7 separate regions of the Homo sapiens genome follow, and all the other regions are reported to be linked to region 1. Evidence: microRNA targets listed by miRTarBase, many of them from high-throughput screens and not tested one by one. Region 1 holds a microRNA gene; each other region holds the end of a gene's coding sequence.

Region 1 (3,260 bases):
GTGCAGTCACAGCAATCAGAAGGAAGCTTTGATCTGAGGTTCCTATGGGTCTCCTCAGGATGCTGAGGGACAACTATGCTTGTAATCAAGGGCTGCCTGTGTTTAAGACTTAAAAGTAGGGACTGGGGGGCTTCTCTGGACCACTCAGTAAAGATCCCCAAAGATTTAAGAAGTGAAACCTTCAAGTGTGTGGAAGGTGTCCACATGCTTCTCATGGAGGAAGGGTCTGGCTTCTTGCCAGGCTGGACCACAGAACAACCGGAAGAGTCGCCCATATCACACCACCAAGACAATCTCCACGTACCAGTGTGGACAGTGTGGAAGCACTGACCACATCTGTGCAGGAGAACCAGTGCCAGAGCCACTGGGGGAGCCTGCACAGCCATCCCCAGCCTACCTTGTGCAAACGCTTCTCTAGGAAGATGAGGAGGGCACGAATCACATCCATATTCACTCCCATGAACTCCGTGGAGTCTCCATGTGGCTCCAGGGTGAGGAGAACATCCAGACACTTGAGGGGCAAGTTCCCCAGGAGGTTCACTGCGTGGCTGGGGACAGATGGAGGTAGGGGTTTCAACAGGGCTAATCCCTGAGCACAGGTGCAATCTTTGTGACTCCGCTGAACCACACATTACATGAGCTGGCATCTGAGTCCCAAAGGGGCAGCGCTAGGGACCAAAGCCAAGGGCAGGGACTGATCTGAGAGGCACTGCCACTCAGCTGTACAGTGGGGTCCCCTGGGGAAGTGGGGGCACTGAGACACACTGCCTCCCCGACCCTGTCTGAGCCAAAGCGCCAGACCATCTCTGGAAACCCAGACCAGCCTAGGGGCAGGTAGACCAAAAACGGGGACAAGGAACCAATGTGCCCTAGTAAGTACCATACTGTTGCCACTACCCAAGGCCCAGTTGGCACATTCCTGCCCCCAAATTCATGGCTATGTCCAGTCTCACTCACCCAGACAACGTCAGACTCTCTAGGGTGGGGCCTGGGCTCTCAGGTGGTTCTGGTTCAGAGCCGGGGTTGAGGACGACCATCTAGACATGTGGGCACACTTCCCTCCCAGAAAAAGCCCCATTCTCACCCGTGGAACTCCTCTGTGCGGTCTCCAGCAGTAGCGATCATCACACAGTGCCGGAGAAGGGTCCCCAGGTGTCGGTAAAGGGCAGCGTCTTCCTGACCAAAGAAAGAAGGGTTCCTGTGAGGAGCCCCACTCATCCCACTGCTGCCTGCTGAGGCTCCACTGTCTGTTGCACTCCAGGACTGTGTGGCAATGACTGTGCACCTCCTGTACTGCATACCTGGTCCCCTGGGGTCTTCCTAGGTGACTCTGGGTAGTGCTGGGGGCAAAAGATGACCACTGCTGTCTTCCTAAAAACTCCATGAGTATTCTTCTAAGAGCACTTCCCTGATTAGGAATGCTAACACATACCTTAGGGATGAAGTCACACTCTGTCTCAGCCCCACTCACAGCCTCATGGTGGAGGATCTCTTACAGTCTCCCCAGACACCACACAGCCCTCCTGCCAGGCAGCAAGAGCCAGAAGGGGCCTCTACTTCCCTCAGAAGCCTTTCCTGAGGTCCCAGCCCAGAACTGGCATCTCCTTGGCCTTGTCCCAACAGGCTGGGAGGTCCTGTCCTCTCCATGTCTGACACCCAGAAACCTGAAGGTACCCAGTAGGAAGCAGGTCCAGGAAATGTTGGAGCTGAGTTGAGACCCATCCATGGGTTAAGGTCAGTGCTCACCTCGTCCACCTCCCCCTTGATGGAGTCCAGGGTGATGTTGAAGAGCACTTTGAGGATCTCCATGGCCCGCTCAGTCTCTTGGGAAGGAAGGAGCGTGGGTGGGGGGTTCCCTTCAGGAGTCACCCCCAGCGTCAGCTCCAGTGTGTCAGTTAGCAGGCGCACTCCTTTCAGCTCCTGAAACAGCTGCTGGCGCACATCGGTGCGGAGTGCCGTTAGCAGGAAGAGGAGCCGCAAGTCAAAGAACTGGACATCGTGGGGGAAGCTCCTCTCACGGTACAGCCCCACACGCTCTGTGAGCTTCACCACTAGGCGGGCCTCTGCTGCCAGCATCTGTGCCACAGGGCTGCTGAGCACGAGGTTGCACAGGCACTTGAGGGACTCCAGTACAACATCCATGTCTGCGGACTCTGGGACGGACCCCTCAGAGACAGAGATGTCAGCATAGCAGGCTAGTGCCTGCAGGCTCTGGCGGCTGGTGAACGGGTCCAGGCAGTTGCGGTCCCGGGACAGGATTCGGACACTCTGCAGCCAGATGACACGGTGGGAGGGTGGCAAGCCCTGTTCCAGGACGGAGACCAGCAGCTCCGCCAGTCTCTGTGGGCAGGGAGAAGAGCGGCTCCACCAGGCCCTTCTTCCTGGGGCCACCCGTCCCTGCCCCTTTACCCCTTGGGCCAGCACCCACCTTCCGGTCCTCCTGTTGGGCATCATCAAACGTGAAGCTCTGGGAGTGCTGCAGAGAGAACTAGTGAATTCAAATCCACAGAGGGGTAGGATCCGCGTCCGCTGATGCGGGCGGCCTATTGGCCTCTAACTCAGGCAGCAGCCACTGCTCAGAACGGATGGCAGGGTCGGCACTCGCCCCCATCCCTACACGCCTGCCACCCAACGGGTGCACCCCCACTCTCCCCGCAACACTGCATCCCAGACCTGCCCCCCGCACCCCGCCGCGTCCCCTACGCTTGCTGACACAGCCTCTGCCTCACCCACGCCCTCCCTGCTACCCGCGCACGACCCTGCCCCACCCCCTCCGTGCCCGCCCCCCGGCCTCAGGCGGCCGCTTACCTCCTGGTTGTATGACCGCAGAGCTTCCATAATCACATCCTCCTCACCCGTCTCCACGGCTTCTGCAACCGCCCGGGGCTCCATGGCGCGCCGGGGAAGGCGGGACGGGCCCTTCCTCAGCCGTTCCGGGCCGCAGTTCGCCGGCCCCGCCCTGGCCCAGAAAGCCCCGCGCCAGCGCGCGGGGGAGGCCGGGACGGGGCGCGGCGTCTGGTGGCGCTTTAACGGGGCGCAGCGTCTGGTGGCGCTTTAAGGGGGCGCGGCCTGAGGCAGAACTGGCGGCTCGGAGGTTTTAAGACCCGAGTCGAGGGGCTGAGTCGCTCTGAACCGAACTGACCCCTCTCCTTGTGACCCGCGCTTCTTGGGCCAGAAGTTCCAACAGGAAACGATCTCAGCCCCCACCGTGCCCTGCCACACACACAGTGACGCCCCTCGAGCTCCACAGAACCGATGGG
Region 2 (3,260 bases), not on the chromosome of region 1:
AGGCGGGAGAGGGCCTGGAGCCGCGGCCCAGTCAGCCTGGAGCCCAGAGCTGTGGAAGGAGGCGAGGAGGCCACGGCTAATTTGTACACTAAATGCTTCTGACAGCGATGCCTCATAAGTGAGAACTTGCCACTGCCCACCCCGGGAAGGCTGTGGCCAGCAGCGCCAACAAGAGGGGCCAGGAGAGGGCACCGTGGGGGCACAGGGCTGGGACAGACCAGATACACCAGAGAGATGGTGCTGTTGGTGGGGGTGAGACCCAGGAGGAGATGCGGGGGAGGGGAGAGGCCTGCACAGAGAAGGGAGGGGAGGGCTGGGCGGGGGCCGGGCAGTGACAGTGGGAAGGAGTCAGCCCCGACAGCTGCCACCAAGGTCTGCCCCGCGCCAGGGCTGTGTGTCCTGCCCAGCCAATCCTCCCTGCTGCCTGCAGGACGCTCGCATCTTTTCCCCTTACCTGCTGCCAGCCGCCTCCTCCAGGCCTCCGCAGCAGCCCCTCACGTGGCCCCGGCCCAACACCTGGCAGGGTCTGTGCTGTGGGACCCTGAGTCCTCTGCAGACGCCCCCCCTTTCCCTCATCACCTCCCTGTGGGAGCTGCTCCCGGGGGCTTTCAAGTGGAGAGGAGGCTGCTGGCTGGGCTAGTGGGGACTCTGGGCAGCTGAGGGGGTGGGCACGGACCCCTTGCCTGCTGTGCGGGACTCCTGCAAGAAGGAGGGTCCTTCTTGTGGGCCTCTGTCCTGGGCCACCCCAGGACTGGGGTGGCAGAAGCCAGAGAGGTGGGTGGTGGTGGGGGTGGGGCCAGGGACAGAGGAGCAGGGTCTCGGGAGGAACGGGGGTCCCAGATACCCCAGGACTAGACAGAGCCAGCTCTGTGCCAAACAGGAGCGGGCACGAGCCCGGCCCCCACCCACAGGAGGAGTGTGACGTGGCGCAGTCGCGGAGCAGCAGGGCCGGCGTCCGCGGGCACCGAGGTGAGATGTGTTCTGGCAGCTCCCCGCCGCCCGAGGCCCGCCCGGAGCGAACACTGCTGGTGGCTTTAATTGCTTTCACATTCGATACGCTGCCCGTGACAGCCTCTTACCCCGCGCCGGCCGCACCCCAGCCCCCAACTCCGTCCAGGGAGACAGCAGAGCCTCCGAGCGGGCGCTTTGCTCAGCAGCACCCGTGTGGGGGCAGAGGCCACCCTGGGACGAGGCTGGGAGGGGACAGGAAACTTTTCTCCCCACGCGCCCCCTCACTCCATCTGCTCCTGCCGGGTGACTGATGGGTTCAGACAGAGCCCCCCGTGCGGATGCCTCGCTGGAAGAAGCTGCATGCGCTGCTGTCCCGTCTGCCCAGTCCTTCCCGGCCCTGGGGCTGCGGCCGCAGGGTCTGACCCCTGCCCCCGCCCAGTCACTCCGTCCTTCCTGGCTGCGTCCATTTGGCAGGGCCGGCTGCCCCTTACAAGCTTGTGAGTCACCCCACCACGGCCATCTCCAGGGGCCCCCACCCGTCCGCCTGCCCGGGATGCCTGGGCAGGGCCTACCCCTCAGACCTGCAACCTCCCCGCCCTTCCACAGGGCCCTGCGCGGGGCAACAGCAGGAGGAGGAGGCGTGATTACAAAACAAAACGCTTTTATTTGGTCCATTGGAGCCTGAGTCGGAAGCCACTGTGGAGAATCCTATGGTAAAGGAACGGGACTGACAATTGATAAAATAGTCTCTGTGTCACAAGAGCTGGCCGTATTTACAGGGTTAAAAATATTCACAGCTCAGAGTACAGGGAGGCCAAAGGGGAGTGGGAATGTTTCTCCAGGTGAAAAGGCCCCGGAAGCCCCTGCCGGGGTAGGAGGGGGAGTGGGGGCGAGGCCGGCCCGCTGCCGGGAGTGAGGGGCCAGGAGGGCACGCAGAAAGCTGGGCTCAGACGTCCACACACTCCTGGGCTTCTGTGGGGAGGTGGGAGCGGCTGAGCCCTGCCCGTGCCCACGATGTGCTGGGGTCCCTCTCTGGCAGGGCCGGGCCGAGGGACAGGGTTGGCTGAGGAGCCTGCTGGTCCCAGTGTGCCCGGCAGCAGTGAGCGGTGCTGAGAACTGGTGCCCACCCACAGCGGGCCTGGCGCCCGCCTGCACCCAGTCATGGCTTCGATCCTGGCGGGCACTCCAGGATTTGCATAGTGTCGCTGGGGGGCTGGCCAAGGGCCCCTTCTTCTGAGACAGGCACCGCCCCGGGACTCGCCGCTCCACACCAGGGCTCCAGGGACCCCGCCTGCCCTGTGGGGGACAGGGACCCGGGCTCTGGGGGAAAACTGACCTTATGCCCCGTGAGGGGTGGTCCCTGATCCCACCCCAGGGTCTTGGCCTCTGACACCCAGATTTGGTTTTGCGGACAGAGCTCCTGGCTGCCTAGCCCGCAGGAGACCCTGAGCCCACAGGGAGGGGCAGCCTGGCCTCGGCCCCCGTCGGGTGTTGGGGCTGGCAGGTGAGCGGGGCTGGTTCACAGCCCGCCTGGTTCGAGGTATTCTGCGTGGCGGCCAGGAGGCCTGGCCAGGCGGACTGTGGGGTTCAGGGAGGGGAAGGAGGGGGGCGGGGGGCCCATGGGAAGCTGAGCCCTGGGCTGGCAGCTCCCTGGGCGGGGTCCTGAGATTCTGGCTCAAGCGTCCTCTGTCGGGGTCTCCCTCATAAAGTGCGTGTGGGGGTGGGGGGTCCGTCTGTGCACAGCCCCTGCCCCAGGCATGGTGGTCACAGCGGTCGGGGCCCATGCAGACCGGCGACCTCTGGCGTGAGTGGGGGGCTGTGGGTCCCCTTGGAGGCTGTCCAGTCACTGAGGAAGGCCTGGGCTGCCTTGCGATGTGCCAGGCGGTGGGTGATAGAGAAGCCGGCGTTGCCCTCTAGCTGGGACAAGATCACCAGGACCTGCCTGGGGGAGGGGACCGGTGAGGACCTGTGGAGGGCAGGGTGGGGATGGGGGCAGGGCTGTGCCCACCTGTACAGGGGCAGGAGCAGGAGTGGGGTGACAAACACCCGTACAGGGGTGGGGGCAGGGGTATGAGCACACCTCTGCAGGGGTGGGGGGGGCATGGGTTGGGTGTGGGTGCAGCGGGGTAGGGGAGGGGGCACCTGTGCAGGGGTGGGGGGGCACGAGTTGGGTGTGGGTGCAGCGGGGTAGGGGAGGGGGCACCTGTGCAGGGGTGGGGGGGCAGGGGCGGGGGCGCACCTGTGCAGGGGTGGCACGCTATCCTGGGTACGCAGGCTGCCGCGTGTGGACACCACGTTGAAGCTGTCGG
Region 3 (3,260 bases), not on the chromosome of region 1:
CCACCAAGTTCTCACAACCGCCATTTTGGAAACAAAGGGGGCGTGGAGACGCTGCCGTGGGCCCGACCGGAAGCGGAAGTGCCAAGGCAGCGGGAGAAAAGAGATTACGGGGACTAACATAATCTCCTTTTCAGAGAAACCAAAAAGATTTTAAAAAACAAAAGTTCACGTCGAGGCATCTGGCGCGCTCGTGCCGCGTCCCCCGCGCCACCTCCGCCAGGACCACGTGGGGCGCAGGGACAGCCGCCGTGCGCATGCGTCACGGGCCCGCGCCCCGCCGCCCCCTTCCCCTCGCCTAGCGCGCGGCGGAACGCTGGGGACGTCACGTGAACGAGGCGCGCGCCACGGAACCAGGGTTGGGGGGCGCCGCGCGGCCGTGAAGTGGGGGGAAGCGAGGGAGAAAATGGCGGGGGGGCAAAGAGCGACGCGAGGAGCCGCCCACACCTCCGCCCCGCGACCCCGGTGCCCTCACCTTGTTTATTCTCGTTGAGCTGCCGCTCGAACTCGTCGAAGTCCGACATGCTGAGGCGGCCGCGTAGGGCCCTGTGCAGCTTTCGCCTCGCCTTGCCGCCCGCTCCAGCCGCTTCGGCTACTTCCGCCGCTGGCTTCGGCTACTTCCGGCCGCCGCCGGCGCTTCGCCACCTCCTACCTAATCAAGCCTCCGGCAGCCCTCCCCGCCCCGCCCGGGCTCCGCCCCCTCACCCGCCCGCCCGCCCGCGAGCTTGCCCCTCCCCCCGAGCCTGGCTCCGAAGCGCCTCGGCTATCTCCGGATACTGGACGAAGGCGAAGCAGGCGGCCGCTTCGGCTGCTTCCGAAAACACCCGAACGTAGGGTTTCGCCGACTTCCCAGGTTTCCGTAACTTTTCCGAGATTATCTCCTCAACGTTCGGAGGTTTCCGTGTGTCCTCGTGTGCCACTGCGCCCAGTCCCCTCTGCGAGTTCGGGTTCTTCCAACAATTCAATCCGTCCCAGTCTTTGGCTTCTTCCACGGACTTGCTCCGATCTTCTCCGCCGGCCCTGTCCAAGCAATCGGCCACTTCCGACAATCCTAACCGTCCCGGCCTTCGGCTCTTTCCGGAGATTTCCGGATCTCGCCCTCGGGCCCCTCCTGGGATTAAGCTCGAGTCCGTGTTTCGGCTCTTTCCGGAGATGCCACTTGCTCACGCCTCCGATCAGAGAACTTCGGCTCCTTCCGCCACCGCTTCGTGAAGGCCTCACTCTCCGGGGACAGCTTCGACTTTTTCCGTGGGTACCTCGGCTCCTTCCGGCTTCGGGAACGGAAAAGGGAAGGAGAACAGAGACGAGATGGATCAGGGGAAGGGATAGAGAAGGGGACGAGGTCCTAGTTCTCGGCACCTGGCTCTCCGGGTGGGGAAAGTGAAAGAAAAAAAGGGCCGGCCTCGCGGAGGGCCTGAGAAGGTTGTGCCAGACAAAAGCAGCAAGAGGGATGAAGGGTGCGCGCGACCGCTGCGGAGGTTGCCAGCGCGGCTTTTTGCGCCTGCGCAGGGTGGAAGCCGCGGGTGAGGGGAAACAGGCTTCTGCGCCTGCGTAAAAGTCGTTCTGTGGCGCGCTCTCCCACTGCTCCCGTGAAGGGGGTTGCGGGGACCAGGTTTCAGTCCCCATTGCGCGTGCGCGAGATTTCCCTTACAACGGTGAAAGTGCTTAATCCCCAGCCGTTAAATCCGGCCACCCTCTTGGTTGTCTCGGCAACCACATCAACGCGCTCCGGCTCTTCCCGCCGCGCAGGCGCGGCAGACGGATCATCTGGCATTACTTCCGGGAGACAGATGATCTGGCGTTACTGCCCCCTGGCGGCCCAACGGAAGTATCCTCCAGACTTGGCCTGGCCGCTAGGTGGCCTCCCTCGCTAGAGGTCATCGACTCACGCCTCTCGCGCCGCGCTCCGGTCTGGGTAGCCCAGCGGGTAGTGTCCACGCTTCTTTTTACTTTTTTTTTTTTTTTTTTGAGACGGAGTCTCTGTCGCCCAGGCTGGAGTGCAGTGGCGCGATCTCGGCTCACTGGAACCTTCGCCTGCCGGGTTCAAGCGATTCTCCTGCCTCAGCCTTCCAAGTAGCTGGGACTACAGGCGCCCGCCACCACACCTGGCTAATTTTTTGTATTTTTAGTAGAGACGGGGTTTCACCGTGTTAGCCAGGATGGTCTCGATCTCCTGAACTCGTGATCCGCCTGCCTCGGCCTCCCAAAGTGCTGGGATTACAGGCGTGAGCCACCGCGCCCGGCTGTGTCCGCGCTTCTTTTCCCGAGCTCTGCCTCCGAGTTTTCTGGGGCGCAGCTGCTTCACTCTCCATCTCTGCCTCCGGGGGGCTAATTACACCGTATCCTACCCGTCCTCCCGCCTGACCACCCACCCCCTTGGAAGCCCCCGCAACCCCGTCACCGTCTTCGGGGCGACGGCCGCCCCCTCCCAGGCACGTCCCCCTCCTAGGAAGAGGCTGAGGCCAAGTTTATTCCAAATTTTCACGTCGTTTTTTAATTTAAATTATCTGAATAATTCTCTGTCTCACGCGGAGTTGGGGAGGTCTGTCCGGGAATCAGGTGGGCAGCTCCTCCGCGGGGCCAGGGCGGAGACGGGGTCTGTACAGTCCCCCACTCGAGGGGGGGGCACCCGCCTGCCTGGTTTTCCAGGAGGAAGGGGCCCGGCGAGGACAGGGCTGGGCAGCCCAAGCGGAAGGGGGTGCCGGCGTTCGGGAAGGGGCCGCGGCCGGTCCGGGGCCGTCGCGCTTGGGGGCCCGGCTAAGGGAGCCCCCAACCCAGGGAGCGAGGAGGAGGGGCAGGGGCGCGGCGGGGAGAGGGGCAGGTCATCCACCGGGGTCCACGGGGGAGGAAGGCCCGGGTGGAGGCGCGGAGGCGTGGTGCGATCACCGCTTGAAGCGGTAGGTGATGGGCAGCAGCAGCTTGCTCTTCTTGAGCGCCTGCACCTTCTTGAGCGTCTCGTCGTCCAGGGCCAGAAAGCAGCGGCGGGAGTACTCGAGCAGGCGCTCCTTGGAGGGGTCGAACTCGCCCACCTCGGCCAGCTTCTCGGGGGCCACAATGAGCAGCTCGGCGATGGGCGTGGTCAGCGCCACGGTGTTCCTGTCCACGCGGTGGTGCTCGAAGGCCCGCGACATGCTCTTGAGCTTCTGGAAGGTGCCCAGGATCTTCTTGTACCGGCAGAGGACCCCGTCGGCGTCCTTCACTGAGGGGTGGAGGCGGGGACACGAAAGTGAGGGGCAGGGCACAAGACTGAGGGGGCGGACACG
Region 4 (3,260 bases), not on the chromosome of region 1:
GATAGGTAAGGGGTATGTTTTGTTGTTGTTGTTGTTGTTTTTAGGTGATGAAAATGTTCTGAAATTGCCTGTGGTGATGGTTGCACATGTCTGTGAATATGCTAACAACTATTGAATTCTACACTTTAAATGTGCGAATTATATAATACGTGAACTACATCTCAAGAATGTTTTAAAACTGGTGTTGGGAAAACAGGACATCCACATGTAAAACAATGTATGTCAGATCCTTACCATACACCATGTACAACAATTAACTCAAAATGGATTAAAGACCTAAATATAAGAGCCAAAACTACAAAAACTCTTAGAAGAAAACATAGCAGTAAATATTCGTAAGTTTGAATGTGGCAATGGTTTCTTAGATATGACACAAAAAACACAAAAGAAAAAAGATAAATTGGACTTCACAAATTAAAAGCTTTTGTGATTCAATGGACACCATCAAGAAAGTGAAAAGAATGGAATACCGATACATTTTACACATCAATGTACCTTGAAAACATTATGCTAAGTGAAAGAATCCAGACACACAAGGACACATATTGAATGAATCAATTTATATGAAATGGCCGTATAGGCAAATCCGTAGAGATAGGAAATAAAATTAGTGTTTGCCAGGGGCTGTGAGTAGAGAGGAAATGGGGAGTGTTGCTAATGGACATGGGATTTCTTTTTGGAGTAATGAAAATGTTTTGCAACTACATAGTCATTATGGTTGCACATCCTTGTGAATGTACTAAAAAGTACTGAACTGGATACCTTAAAAGGCTGAATTTTTTTCATTTCTTCTAAAAAAAACCAGGATAGATGTGCAGAACGTGCAGGTTTGTTACGTAGGTACATGTGTGCTATGGTGGTTTGCTGCATCTATTGACCCATCCTTTAAGTTTCCTCCCCTCACCCCTCACCCCCCAGCAGGCTCCGGTGTGTGATGTTCCCCTCCCTGTGTCCATGTGTTCTCATTGTTCAACTCCCATTTATGAACAAGAACATGCAGCATTTGGTTCTCTGTTCCTGTGTTAGTCTGCTGAGGATGATGGTTTCCAGCTTCATTCATATCCCTGCAAAGGACATGATCTCATTCCTTTGTATGGCTGCATAGTATTCCATGGTGTATATGTACCACATTTTCTTTCTCCAGTCTATCATTGATGGGCATTTGGGTTGGTTCCAAGTCTTTGCTATTGTAAATAGTGCTGCAGTAAACATACGTGTGCATGTGTCTTTATAGTAGAATGATTTATATTCCTCTGGGTATGTACCCAGTAATGGGGTTGCTGGGTCAAATGGTATTTCTGGTTCTAGATCCTCGAGGAATCGCCATACTGTCTTCCACAATAGTTGAACTAATTCACATTCCCACCAACAGTGTAAAAGCGTTCCTATTTCCCCACAGCCTCACCAGCATCTATTGTTTCCTGAGTTTTTAATAATTGCTATTCTGACTGGTGTGAGATGGTATCTCATTGTGGTTTTGATTTGCATTTCTCTGATGATCTGTGATGTTGAGCTTTTTTTCATATGTTTGTTGGCCGCATAAATGTCTTCTTTTGAGAAATGTCTATTCATATCCTTTGCCCACTTTTTGATGGGGTTGTTTTTTTCTTGTAAATTGTTTAAGTTCCTTGTAGATTCTGGATATTAGACCTTTGTCAGATGGGTAGATTGCAAAATGTTTTCTCCCATTCTGTAGGTTAAAAGGCTGAATTTTATAGCATGTGAATTATATCCCAATTTAAAAAAGAATGCATATGTCTTAGTTCAGGCTTCCATAACATAATACCATAGACTGGGTGGTCTAATTGTTCAAAGCTCCACAGAAATTAGTTGGAGAAGTTACAAGAGTCCATTAATCATCTTGCTTTGTTAGTAGCAGCGGGCATGGTTCAGCATTTTCTGCTTAAGTTTCTCTGAGCTCACCAAAACTAAAATGATGTTGTAATACTTTTTTTTTTTAATTGCACATCACTCCTTTATTATACTGATCTGGTAAAAGGATTTAGTACAGTTATGCTCAGATGAACACTGGGCCCATGTGGCAGGGTCAAGCAACTAGAACATGATTCAGAAATCAGTGAAAGACACACTTGGACAGGACCAAGAGGCATTTCACTGCCATGAAACAAGGCAGGAAGGGATTCTAATACACACACCAGGAAGCACTCCTGCCCCTCAGAGGTCAAGGAGCTGATCCTATATTGGTATGAGGAATGGCTTATTTTCTGATGACCACATGTGGGACTATTTCAACCGCCACAAGAAACCCCAGAAGGGTTATTGTTTTGTATTATTAATATATACTATACTTTTTTAATAAAAGTAAATATAACACATAACGAAATTCAGGATTGATCCCAACCTAGAGCCAGATCCTCTGGGGTCAAGGAGGAAACAGTTGTCACATCACCATGCAGATTACATTCATCTTCCACTGGAATGACTAGAGCCCCCAGGCAGTGGCCTGACTGCAGAAGAGCAGAGGACAGACTCTGCTCATGGGGACAGACAGGCTCTGTTGCTTCTCCTCATTGGTCGTGGCTTAGCATGTTCCTCCCCAAAGTCCTTAGTAAACAAAGCACTCACAAAAACCCAAGTCACTACTTTTAAACTCTGTTGGATAAGGGGAGCTTTTCCACAGCTTAGACTGAGAACCTGTGCTCTAGAACTGCTATTCTGACTAGATTGTATGAAGGGAGTGGGTGCAGGCGACAAAATGGCTAAAATGAAAATGGGAGCCACTGGTCCCCATCTGCAGCTACAACTCAAGATGTCTACAGATGTGGTCAGTGTGACATGTGCAGGTGGGAGGGGCAGAGGGACAAGACCAGCAGGGAGGGTGCTCCTGGGGACAGTATCCTCCCCGCTGGCCTTCACTTCTTGGCCTTGCCCTGGGCAGCCACAGCTTCTATGGCTTTGCACACCGTCTCTTCATCCCCCAGAAACTGCATGGGCTTGATAGGCTTCAAGTTCTTGTCCAATTCATAGACGATGGGAATACCAGTCGGCAGGTTCAGCTCCATGATAGCCTCTTCAGAGAGACCCTCCACATGCTTGGCAATGCCCTGGAGGCTGTTGCCATGGGCTGCAATCAGTACACGTTTCCCCTCCTTGATCTGGGGAACTATTTCTTCATTCCAGAAGGGCAGAGCTCTGGCAATAGTATCCTTCGGACTCTCATAGGAGGGTAGCTGATCTTCTGTGAGGTCTGCATACCTGCGATCCTTACTGATGTTGCTGTAGAAAGGATGGTCGGGCTC
Region 5 (3,000 bases), not on the chromosome of region 1:
CCTGGTGCCCAGAGCGGGGACAGTTGGTGACTCGATCCAGGAGAGGAAGTCACCTGCGCCCTGAACTCTGAGGCTCACATCCTGTGAACCTGCTCAGGAGAGCTAAGGTGTGGCCCACCAGTGCCTTTTGGGGACTCATAGAAACAGCTCCTCTCACCTAGAAAGAAACAGAGCCACCATCTTCCCACCCCTCAAAGGTAATAAAACCATGGAAAATGATCAAAGGAGGCTGATGGAAGGGGAGAAAGGAATGAAAAGAAACAAGAAAACAATAGCAAGTGTTAAAAGATGAGAAGCTCTGGCAGTGGGGGAAAACAAAGCACAAGATAGGGGCAAGAGGAGAGAAAGGAAAGAAGAAATGAAACAGGAAGGGCTGGGTGGGGATTTGCAAATTGTCCAGCAAAAGACGCTTCCAGCTTTGATGATGAAGGAGCAGGGGCCAGAGGGCAACATCCTTATCTCTGGAATCCACTCACAGGAGCCATTGGGGATCCATTTTCTCTCCCATCAAATTCTTAGATTTTAGGTTCAGAAGCTTCATCTACATCCAGGTGTGAGACAGACAAGTTTGGGAGAACTTGTTCCAGGCTCTCCTCTCACCCACCTCCCACAGAATTTGAGAAAATTCCCCCAACTACAGGTGGGCAGGAGGGTTGAAAGAACAGCTGTGGGGGTACCCGTGCCCTCCCCCATCCTCGGGCCAAGACAGGAGGCAAGGCTAGAATCTCCCCATATGTTCATGAATCTGAAGGTGGGGTTGCCAAAGGCCCCATCTGGAACTCTGGGGACAGTGGGCTCACAGAAGAGCCCACACCATAGAAGGGGTGGAGAACAGGGAGAGCAGGGAGAGCAGACATCAGGGGCGGCATGAGAATTGGACGCATCTCTTTTGTTTGGTCCCTTCCTACACCTGGACTTGAGTGCAGGACAACGGGACAGGGGCATTGCCCTAGAGTCTTATTCCCCAGTGCCCTGCCTCGGGCCTCCCTCATTCCTTGGTGTACCAGAAGTCACTGTTCCGTAAACCAGGAGTACTGAGTCCTGGGTGGGTGGTGGGGGGGTGGCTGCAGCCGCTGGAGATGTTAGGAGGACAGAGCTTTGAGAGAGCAGCCACACCTTCCTGTGCCCACAGTAACGAGGCAGCAATTGGCTAAGGTAAGTGGTAGGTGACCCAACAGGGACAGGAGGGACCATAGTAAACACACGAGGCCAGAGACAAAAACACGGCCGGACAAATACATGACCCAGAGGATGCCACTGAGTGACCAACTCTGCCCCATGCACGCTGCGCCATTGAACATCCTCGGCACTCAGAGCCAGTCCCAGGCAGGACAGGGGAGGGCAAAACCCCAAATGTGACTGAGTCACAAACCTACGGCAACTCAGAAATCATCATACTGGGCTGAGGTTACTTTGAAGTGTCAGGTCTCAGGCTGGCAATTAATTTTAGTTTTAGGAAAGTAAAGTGATGTTTTGCACACCTGAGTGGGTGGCTTGCGAAGTTCATGCCTGCAATCCTAGTACTGATTCCTCAAACTCTCCTAGAAAAAATACCATCAGCCTTCCTGGCTGGCAAGTGCTGGGTTCACTGCACCTTGGGCCACTCACTCATTGCCTCGCCTGCCCTGATCTCACCAGCCTCCTAGTGGCCTCCCACAAAGGTCAAGGGAGTCACAGCTGACTCTGTCACTATAGTTACAGGAGGAGCCCAGTACTATCTCAGTGCTGAAGCCAGCAATCCACACTTTCGTGAAAGGCTCCACTAACTGTCACAAGCTCTGTGCTCAGCTAGAGAAAAGGAGCAGAAGTCCTCCTGTTGGGGCTGCAAATTTGCTAGGCATTGCATGTTCCCAGGCCCTGCCCTGCTGCTTCCGGGAAGAGGCCTTTTAAGTAAGCATTCCTGGGCTCTGAACCAGTGTGAGGGGCCAGCGTCCCTATATGACAACCACTGCAATGTCAGGTGCCTTTCTGCTCCCAGGCTGGGTGCTGAATAGAAGGGCAGCAGCAGCTGGGAAGTGGCCCCCTGGAGACTGGACAGAGCTGCGCCCGGCAGCATACATTCCCCAGGGCCCTCCCCATTCCTTGATTTTTTAGTAGTCAATGCAGTCTAAATTGGGGGTGAGGATTCTCAGGTGCGGTGTTGCTACAGGCACTTGAGATCTAAGAGGATGTGAGGAGCCTCAGACAACCCCTTAGGAAGGTCCACTCCACCTCCAGCCCCAACTATGGGGAGAGAGGAAGGCTTCAGGGCTACCTTGTAGGGGAAGACCAGAGCCCAGGCTCCCACCAGACCACCCAAGAGCCAACAAAACAACTGTCCTCTGGCAGCAGGGAAAGGCCTTCTGGAACTCTGAGGCTCAGCCCCAGCAAAGGCTGGGACCATGACCCAATTCCTGGGAGGCCAGATATGTCCACCCTGGGGGTCCTTTGGGCTCAGAACCTGGGCCCTTCCTTCAAAGTCAATCTGTCAGGAGGCCTCGGTGAGAGCTTGGTATCTGAACAAACGAAAAGAGACTGCTGTTCCTTTACAAAACTCGGGCTTATCACCATCCCTTCTTCCCAGTACAAGGTCGCATCTTTGCCGACCAAGTTCAACTGGCAGCTCAAGGGGCAGGGGAAACTTTAACCTAGGCAGGATGTGGCAGGGCCAAGCAAGCGCTGCGTGCCGAGTCTTGACATCTTCTCTGGCAAGGGCCATCCACACTGAGGCCCCGAGGGTCTCATGCTATGGTCGCATTTAGACTTCTCCCTTGGTGTGCTCTGGAAGTTTTTCAGACACAAGAAATTCCCTGGCTGTCACTGAATTTTTCAAATATGGATTTGGGGCTCCTTCCTCACACAGATGATCTGGTACTAAACTTTGACCAGAAAAGAGAAGCTGCTCTTTGGCTTCTGGGCGGGTCCCCTCTGGCATCCTCGAACGTAGGTATTGGGATTTTCTGGGCGGAATCTCAGGTGAAACTGGGAGCTCCTCAAAACTTTTCCCCAGGGGACAATCAG
Region 6 (3,260 bases), not on the chromosome of region 1:
AGGCATCATCACCCAGGGGGCCCGTAACTTTGGCTCTGTCCAGTTTGTGGCATCCTACAAGGTTGCCTACAGTAATGACAGTGCGAACTGGACTGAGTACCAGGACCCCAGGACTGGCAGCAGTAAGGTGGGTGTCTGTCCAGCTGCCCACCCTTTGCCATTCCTTCATTACTTCCCTGGGAGTCTGGCCTGGGGCTCTGAGGGGAGGGGGGCTGGCTCGGGGTCCTCCTGACACCCGCTCTGCCTCTAGATCTTCCCTGGCAACTGGGACAACCACTCCCACAAGAAGAACTTGTTTGAGACGCCCATCCTGGCTCGCTATGTGCGCATCCTGCCTGTAGCCTGGCACAACCGCATCGCCCTGCGCCTGGAGCTGCTGGGCTGTTAGTGGCCACCTGCCACCCCCAGGTCTTCCTGCTTTCCATGGGCCCGCTGCCTCTTGGCTTCTCAGCCCCTTTAAATCACCATAGGGCTGGGGACTGGGGAAGGGGAGGGTGTTCAGAGGCAGCACCACCACACAGTCACCCCTCCCTCCCTCTTTCCCACCCTCCACCTCTCACGGGCCCTGCCCCAGCCCCTAAGCCCCGTCCCCTAACCCCCAGTCCTCACTGTCCTGTTTTCTTAGGCACTGAGGGATCTGAGTAGGTCTGGGATGGACAGGAAAGGGCAAAGTAGGGCGTGTGGTTTCCCTGCCCCTGTCCGGACCGCCGATCCCAGGTGCGTGTGTCTCTGTCTCTCCTAGCCCCTCTCTCACACATCACATTCCCATGGTGGCCTCAAGAAAGGCCCGGAAGCGCCAGGCTGGAGATAACAGCCTCTTGCCCGTCGGCCCTGCGTCGGCCCTGGGGTACCATGTGGCCACAACTGCTGTGGCCCCCTGTCCCCAAGACACTTCCCCTTGTCTCCCTGGTTGCCTCTCTTGCCCCTTGTCCTGAAGCCCAGCGACACAGAAGGGGGTGGGGCGGGTCTATGGGGAGAAAGGGAGCGAGGTCAGAGGAGGGCATGGGTTGGCAGGGTGGGCGTTTGGGGCCCTCTATGCTGGCTTTTCACCCCAGAGGACACAGGCAGCTTCCAAAATATATTTATCTTCTTCACGGGAACTCTTGGTGTGGTTCGTTATTGTTTCATGGGAATGGGATTTAAATTGCGCTGGTTTCCCCATCCCCCACCTGTGGTCCTCCCTGAGCCCCAGCTTGCTTGCTTGCTTTTTTTTTTTTTTTTTTGAGATGGAGTCTTGCTCTGTCGCCAGGCTGGAGTGCAGTGGTGTGATCTCGGCTCATTGCAATCTCTGCCTCCTGGGTTCAAGCATTTCTCCTACCTCAGCCTCCCAAGTAGCTGGGACTATAGGTGCACACCACCATGCCCAGCTAAGTTTTATATTTTTAGTAGAGACAGGGTTTCACCGTGTTGGCCAGGATTGTCTCAATCTCTTGACCTTGTGATCCACCTGCCTCGGCCTCCCAAAGTGCTGGGATTACAGGCGTGAGCCACCGTGCCCAGCCCCATCTTTCTTTATGTCACCTGCCTGACTACACATAGCTTCATAGCAGGAGGCTGGAGACTTTGGTCCAGGGCGGCCTGAAGGAAGTCAGGACTTCCAGGTCCTCAAAACCTGACTTCCCCTCTTCCCTCTGCTTTCTACCTCCATGCCGTCTGGCCCTGAGCCCTACAACTGCTGCCTGGTCAGGGGCCCAGCGAGTGCTGGCAGACACTGTCTCCTGAATGCTTTTGCTCCCTTCCTGCCAGGAAGACTGGCTGGGGCAGCTGGTTTTCCCCTTCAGCAGTTTCCATTCTCTCTGCAACTGGAGTGGTGGGCTGGAGAAACTATAAGAAACTCAGTGAACCTGGATGCCTTCCGAACTGCGGGAGTTCCTGGGGTGGGTGCAGCGTGGGACTGGAGGAGGGGGCCGGGGCTCTGCCAAGTGGGCATGAGGCCTCCTGCCTGAACACACTGGTTCCTGGTAGGCCACTGGCGTGTGTGCTCCAGGGATACCCTCTCTGCCCTCCCCTGTGTGGGGGTCATCAAGAAGTGGGGGTGGGCCTTGCGGGCCAGTGTCTTGGTGATCTGGAAGGGTGACTTGCAGGCAGAGGCTTGGCTAGCTTGGGAAGGGGTGTAGGAAAAACCACCCTCTTTGTCAAGGTGAATTTTTCCAAACTTTGGGAGCCGGCTGTGTTCTGCAGGCAGGGGGTGCATCTGAGCAGCAGGAGGTGGGGCCGCCTCTGAGCAGCAGGAGGTGGGGCCGCCTCTGAGCAGCAGGAGGTGGGGCCACAGGGCTGCCAAAGGGAGGGCGTGGCTTTGCTGGAACCACATCAGGGAAATGTGTCTGGAAGTGGTTCCTTTCTGAGACCTGCGGTTGCTGGGCTCCTGGGCCTAGCAGGGTCTGAATAAAAGGCCCAGGCCGTGGTCTTCGTAGGAACTGAGGATGGGGGACTCCCTTCCCCTGGGTGTCCCTTGGCCTACTGCCTCCCGTTTCAGAGCTCTCTTCTGCGGAGCGGTGTGGATTGGGTTTAGAGCCAAGCCTTTCTGCGTGCTTCCAAGCCTCAGGTCTCCCTCCCGGGGGAGTTTCCTGCCCTGAACCCCTGTTCCAGCATACCCTGGGGATAAGCAGACAGTGGGAGAAGCATCTCTGCTCTGGGATGGGTTGGCCACAGCCTTCTAAAAGTCCCCCTCCTGGGACCCTGGAGTGGAGTCCCCTCACTCCTGACCCCCTCCTTCCTTCCTTGGCTTCTCTCCCTCAGCAGTGTCTTCCATTTGCCCAGCTTTTACCATCACCCCTACACATTGACTTTTTTCTGCCCCACTGCAAGGCAGAGGGTGAGCGTTCAGATTCCACCTGCTGGCTACCCCTACCCCTGGCTGGCATGTTCAACTCGACTTAACTGTAGCAAAATGTGCTCTCCCTACTGTCCATCCTCTCCCCTGTCGGGAACCTGCAGAGGGACCTACCTTGGCTCCCCTTTGCCCATCAAGCCTGGCGTTCCTTTTAGGTGTAGTTTACCTGTTGATCACAGTTCTTTGTGCTCCAATGTGCCCCTGGCTGTGTGTAACACACACACATGCACACACACACACACACTCATGGGCCAACTTGAGCTGTGTTTAGGAAGAGGCTCTGAGCTCTGTGACCCTGTGACCCTTCGACCCTTCCCCCAGCCAAAGCTGAAGGACCTCCTTAGTCTTTTCTGCTGAGGAAACATCGGGCTGTCCAGGCCAGGGCCCCCATTGGTCTGGACAGGAAAGAAAACACCCTGTCCAAACA
Region 7 (3,260 bases), not on the chromosome of region 1:
GAGTCAGCTTCCCAAAGAAGCAGGCTTGCGGAGCCAGAGTGACGTGGGCCCAGCTATATGGACAGTTGATTTTAAGATGGGGGACATCTAGGCCAGGTGCAGTAATCCCAGTACTTTGAGAGGCCGAGGTGGACGGATCACTTGAGGTCAGGAGTTCAAGACCAGCCTGGCCGACATGGTGAAACCCCATCTCTACTAAAATTACAAAAATTAGCTGGGTGTGGTAGCATATGCCTGTAGTCCCAGCTACTCGGTAGGCTGAGGTAGGAGGATCACTTGAACTCAGGAGGTGGGGGTTGCAGTGAGCGGAGATCGTGCCACTGCACTCCAATCTAGGTGACAGAATGAGACTCCGTCTCAAAAATAAATAAAAAATAAAGAAATGATGGGGGACATCTATTATATCCTTCTTCAGGCCTTCCTCTGCTTTTCTTCCTTTCAGGCCAACCAGGATCTCCCAACCCGAAGACAGCAGGCAGCCCAATAATGTGATCAGACAGCCTTTGGGTCCTGATGGGTCTCAAGGCTTCAAACAGCGCAGATAAATGCAGGCAAGAAAAGATGCCGCCGTTGCTGCCGTCACCGCCTCCTGGGTCGTCCGCCACGGGTTGCACTGCCGTGGCAGACAGCTGGACTTGAGCAGAGGGAACGACCTGACTTACTTGCACTGTGATCCCCCTTGCTCCGCCCACTGTGACCTTGAACCCCATGCACTGTGACCTCCCCCCTTCTCCCCCTTCCCACTGTGATTGGCACATCGACAAGGGCTGTCCCAAGTCAATGGAAAGGGAAAGGGTGGGGGTTAGGGGAAGGTTGGGGGGACCCAGCAAGGACTCAGAGAGTCAGACAGTGCCACTTGGCCACTTGGGGTAAAGCCAGTGCCAGCAATAACAGTTTATCATGCTCATTAATTTGGGATTTCAAAACACAAATGAAAACTCACACCCACCCACCCCCAAGTGCATGTCTCCATCACTTAAAAAGTAAGTTCCATTTGAAAATATCCTTTCTTTTTTTTTTCTTCCTATTTTTGTTTGTTTATACAAATATCTGATTTGCAAGAAAAAGTGCATGGGAGGGGTTTTAGTGGTTTAATGAATTTTTAATTAAGAAAGGGTAGTTTGGTAGTCTACTTAAAAATGTTTCTGGGAAATTCACTAGAAACATTAACCAATAGGATTTTGGTGAGCTTAGCTTCTGTATTCCTACTGCCGCCCAGAAAAGGGGCAGGGCTCTGCAGCCGCCAGGACAGACGAGCACCCCATGCCTATACCTCCCTCCCCGAGCTAAGTCCCAGGGCATCTGGGCCTTGCCTGGAGACTGGGCTAGCTCTGTAGGCTCGGAGAGCCTGGGGAGGGTGCCAACCCCACCTCTAGTATTTTGGGAGATAGGGAAAGTGAACCGACTTCCCCTTCCCATACCCCTCAGGGTGGTTCCCTACCAGCCAGGCTTACTACTTCTAGAAGAAAGCAGAGTGCCAGGGAGTGAGATTGCATCCCTGGGCTTAGAAGTGACGGAGAGAAGACTTGTTTAGTATTTTGCCATCAGCACAAGGAAAACCAGGAGAGAGTCTGCCTCCAGGACTCTGAGCCTTCTGCCTCGTATGTTCAGAAGGTGGATAGGTCTTCCCACTCCAGCATGGCTTGAACTCTTAGGGGTCTGCAGTGCTCCATCTCCATTGGTGGCCCCAGCTCAGTAACTATACCTGGTACATTTCCTGTGTGCAATCAGTACCTTGAAGGCAGAACATTCTGAATAAAGTTGGAAAAAGAACAGCTTTGCTTTGCAAAGATTGATGACAGACTGGTTCCTCAGAGGCCTAGGCTACCCGTCACCCCTTTTTCCAGAGCGAGGGCCTGGAATGAAGGCAGTTTATCCTCTGTCCCTGGAGCCTGGGGTTTGCTTTGGCTCCTTGAGGTGGAAGAGACTAAGAGGGCAGCTGCCCAGAGCAGCTGTGTGTACCTGGCTCCTCTCAGGCTTCCTGATCCCTTCCGTTGCACTGCGCCTTATCCCTCAGCCAGCCAGACAGCCTCCCTGCTCCTGACCAGCAGATACGTTTCGGAGTGGTTGGTGTGGTTTTTGTGATGAGGGCAGCACGTGGTGGCCAAGGTGGCAAGCTGAGTCTCACAGGCTCACTCCCTCGTTGGTTCCCTGTGGGAATGGTAGGCCAGGCCCAGTAAGCCATGCCCCAACACGTCCTCTCCTCCGGAGGAAGGGCCAGCTGCCAGCTGAGTCAGCAGCTAGTCCATAGCACAGCCTTATAACTGTAAAGCCAGGCATTGCCCATGAGCAGAGCTGGAACCAGAGCTTCAGTCAGTAAGAGGGAGGATTACCTTCAGGAGAAGGCAAGGAAGAAAACTGGCTGCTATCTTTATAGTTCCACTGCCCTAACCAAGTGTCCACATTCTAAATGTGTAGTGTCCATCCCTTATGTAATAGTGGTTTCCCGCCCAAAGTGAGACTTTCCTTTTAATTGGAGAAGGGTATAGAGGTAGTCCAGGTGGGAACGCCAGAAGTGCTGATTGCCCAGCCATTGGGACCACCTGTTCTTGCCCCACTACCCTCTAGTGGGAGGCCAAAGTAAAGGCTGGCTGGTGGGTGTCTGTGGATTGAGGATGTGGCAGGGACTGGTCCTCCCACCTCCCTCTGGCCAAAGATGGGCTTTGCCCGCTGTGTGCCTGTCACCACCCACCAGCAGTCATGCCCTGGGCTTCCCAAATGGAGAGGTAGCAGGCAACGTTTTTAAAAAGAAAGAAAACAGGAAACTGTATTGTGTCGGGGGAGGCGGGAGGGAGATGAGGAAACGGTTTGGATTTTGTGTGTGGGAGGGTATTTTTTGGGGGTAGTTGTCTGTAACTTTCCTAAGTGCTTTTTTTCCTTTTCTTTTTTAAAGTAAGTTGCAGGCTTTGGCTTGGAAAACCCCAGGGGGATGGGGGGCAGAAACCTGAGGCTGCTGCCCCTTTATCTGCCTTCACGGTACTGTCCCCTTCCCCCAGCTCCTCCCTGACCCCATGGGCCAGGCCTCAGACCTTCCAGCTAACCGCTTCCCATGAGCCACTACTCTGATGTCAGCCTATAACCAAAGGAGCTGGGGGGTCCAGGCCTGGTGACCAACCTTTCTCAGCCCACTCAATCAGGGTGCTCCCCACCTGCAGGCAGGAGGCAACACCCTATCTGCTACCATCAGCCCCTTCCAGAGCCCATCTGCCCCGCCCAGCCCTGCCCTGCCCAGCCATACCCTGCTCTGCCCCATCTGGGGG

What was found. The annotated mature microRNA hsa-miR-6743-5p reads AAGGGGCAGGGACGGGUGGCCC and lies in region 1 at 2,385-2,406, opposite strand. An mRNA with a match to its seed (bases 2 to 7 or 8) in the 3' UTR can be bound and repressed. Matches are read on the target gene's strand: a 7mer-m8 pairs with bases 2 to 8, a 7mer-A1 pairs with bases 2 to 7 and ends in A, and an 8mer does both.
Region 2: miRTarBase lists CAPN15 as a target of hsa-miR-6743-5p. Seed matches in the 3' UTR shown: 7mer-m8 at 2,411-2,417.
Region 3: the mRNA of CCDC106 is a reported target of hsa-miR-6743-5p. Seed matches in the 3' UTR shown: 7mer-m8 at 2,811-2,817 and 7mer-m8 at 2,788-2,794.
Region 4: the mRNA of PGAM4 is a reported target of hsa-miR-6743-5p. Seed matches in the 3' UTR shown: 7mer-m8 at 2,810-2,816.
Region 5: the mRNA of IL31RA is a reported target of hsa-miR-6743-5p. Seed matches in the 3' UTR shown: 7mer-m8 at 2,607-2,613, 7mer-m8 at 938-944 and 8mer at 328-335.
Region 6: the mRNA of MFGE8 is a reported target of hsa-miR-6743-5p. Seed matches in the 3' UTR shown: 7mer-A1 at 574-580, 7mer-m8 at 691-697 and 7mer-m8 at 921-927.
Region 7: miRTarBase lists SZRD1 as a target of hsa-miR-6743-5p. Seed matches in the 3' UTR shown: 7mer-m8 at 2,955-2,961.

The regions. Positions count from the first base shown.
Region 1 is chr11:208,487-211,746 of GRCh38, reverse strand. MIR6743 (microRNA 6743) reads right to left here and starts at 2,411; the gene lies at 2,341-2,411. RIC8A (RIC8 guanine nucleotide exchange factor A) reads right to left here. Exons shown (of 10, transcript NM_001286134.2): 1 at 2,809-3,260; 2 at 2,429-2,476; 3 at 1,747-2,340; 4 at 1,085-1,176; 5 at 398-548. The coding sequence starts at 2,892. RefSeq lists enhancers at 2,171-2,758, 2,833-3,260 and silencers at 2,657-2,766, 2,837-3,126, 3,127-3,260.
Region 2 is chr16:552,972-556,231 of GRCh38, reverse strand. CAPN15 (calpain 15) reads right to left here. Exons shown (of 14, transcript NM_005632.3): 13 at 3,191-3,260; 14 at 1,596-2,893. The coding sequence ends at 2,716. Among named protein-coding and RNA genes, the nearest start is that of PRR35, 5.8 kb to the left of the region's middle.
Region 3 is chr19:55,652,366-55,655,625 of GRCh38, reverse strand. It overlaps CCDC106 (coiled-coil domain containing 106), which reads right to left. Exons shown (of 5, transcript NM_001370470.1): 5 at 2,465-3,196. The coding sequence ends at 2,880. U2AF2 (U2 small nuclear RNA auxiliary factor 2) reads right to left here and starts at 591. Exons shown (of 12, transcript NM_007279.3): 1 at 473-591. The coding sequence starts at 521. RefSeq lists silencers at 206-345, 556-605, 696-745 and an enhancer at 796-1,465.
Region 4 is chrX:77,966,001-77,969,260 of GRCh38, forward strand. PGAM4 (phosphoglycerate mutase family member 4) reads right to left here. Exons shown (of 1, transcript NM_001029891.3): 1 at 1,949-3,260. The coding sequence ends at 2,874. The region is part of intron 1 of ATP7A (ATPase copper transporting alpha); the gene reads left to right. Among named protein-coding and RNA genes, the nearest start is that of PGAM4, 2.0 kb to the right of the region's middle.
Region 5 is chr5:55,916,858-55,919,857 of GRCh38, reverse strand. It overlaps IL31RA (interleukin 31 receptor A), which reads right to left. Exons shown (of 15, transcript NM_139017.7): 15 at 1-3,000. The coding sequence ends at 2,738. Among named protein-coding and RNA genes, the nearest start is that of IL31RA, 67 kb to the right of the region's middle.
Region 6 is chr15:88,896,523-88,899,782 of GRCh38, reverse strand. MFGE8 (milk fat globule EGF and factor V/VIII domain containing) reads left to right here. Exons shown (of 8, transcript NM_005928.4): 7 at 1-127; 8 at 251-1,100. The coding sequence ends at 388. Among named protein-coding and RNA genes, the nearest start is that of HAPLN3, 2.6 kb to the right of the region's middle. RefSeq lists enhancers at 2,125-2,174, 2,111-2,405.
Region 7 is chr1:16,394,596-16,397,855 of GRCh38, forward strand. It overlaps SZRD1 (SUZ RNA binding domain containing 1), which reads left to right. Exons shown (of 4, transcript NM_001114600.3): 4 at 443-3,260. The coding sequence ends at 545. It also overlaps a transcript of SPATA21 not described here. Among named protein-coding and RNA genes, the nearest start is that of SZRD1, 29 kb to the left of the region's middle.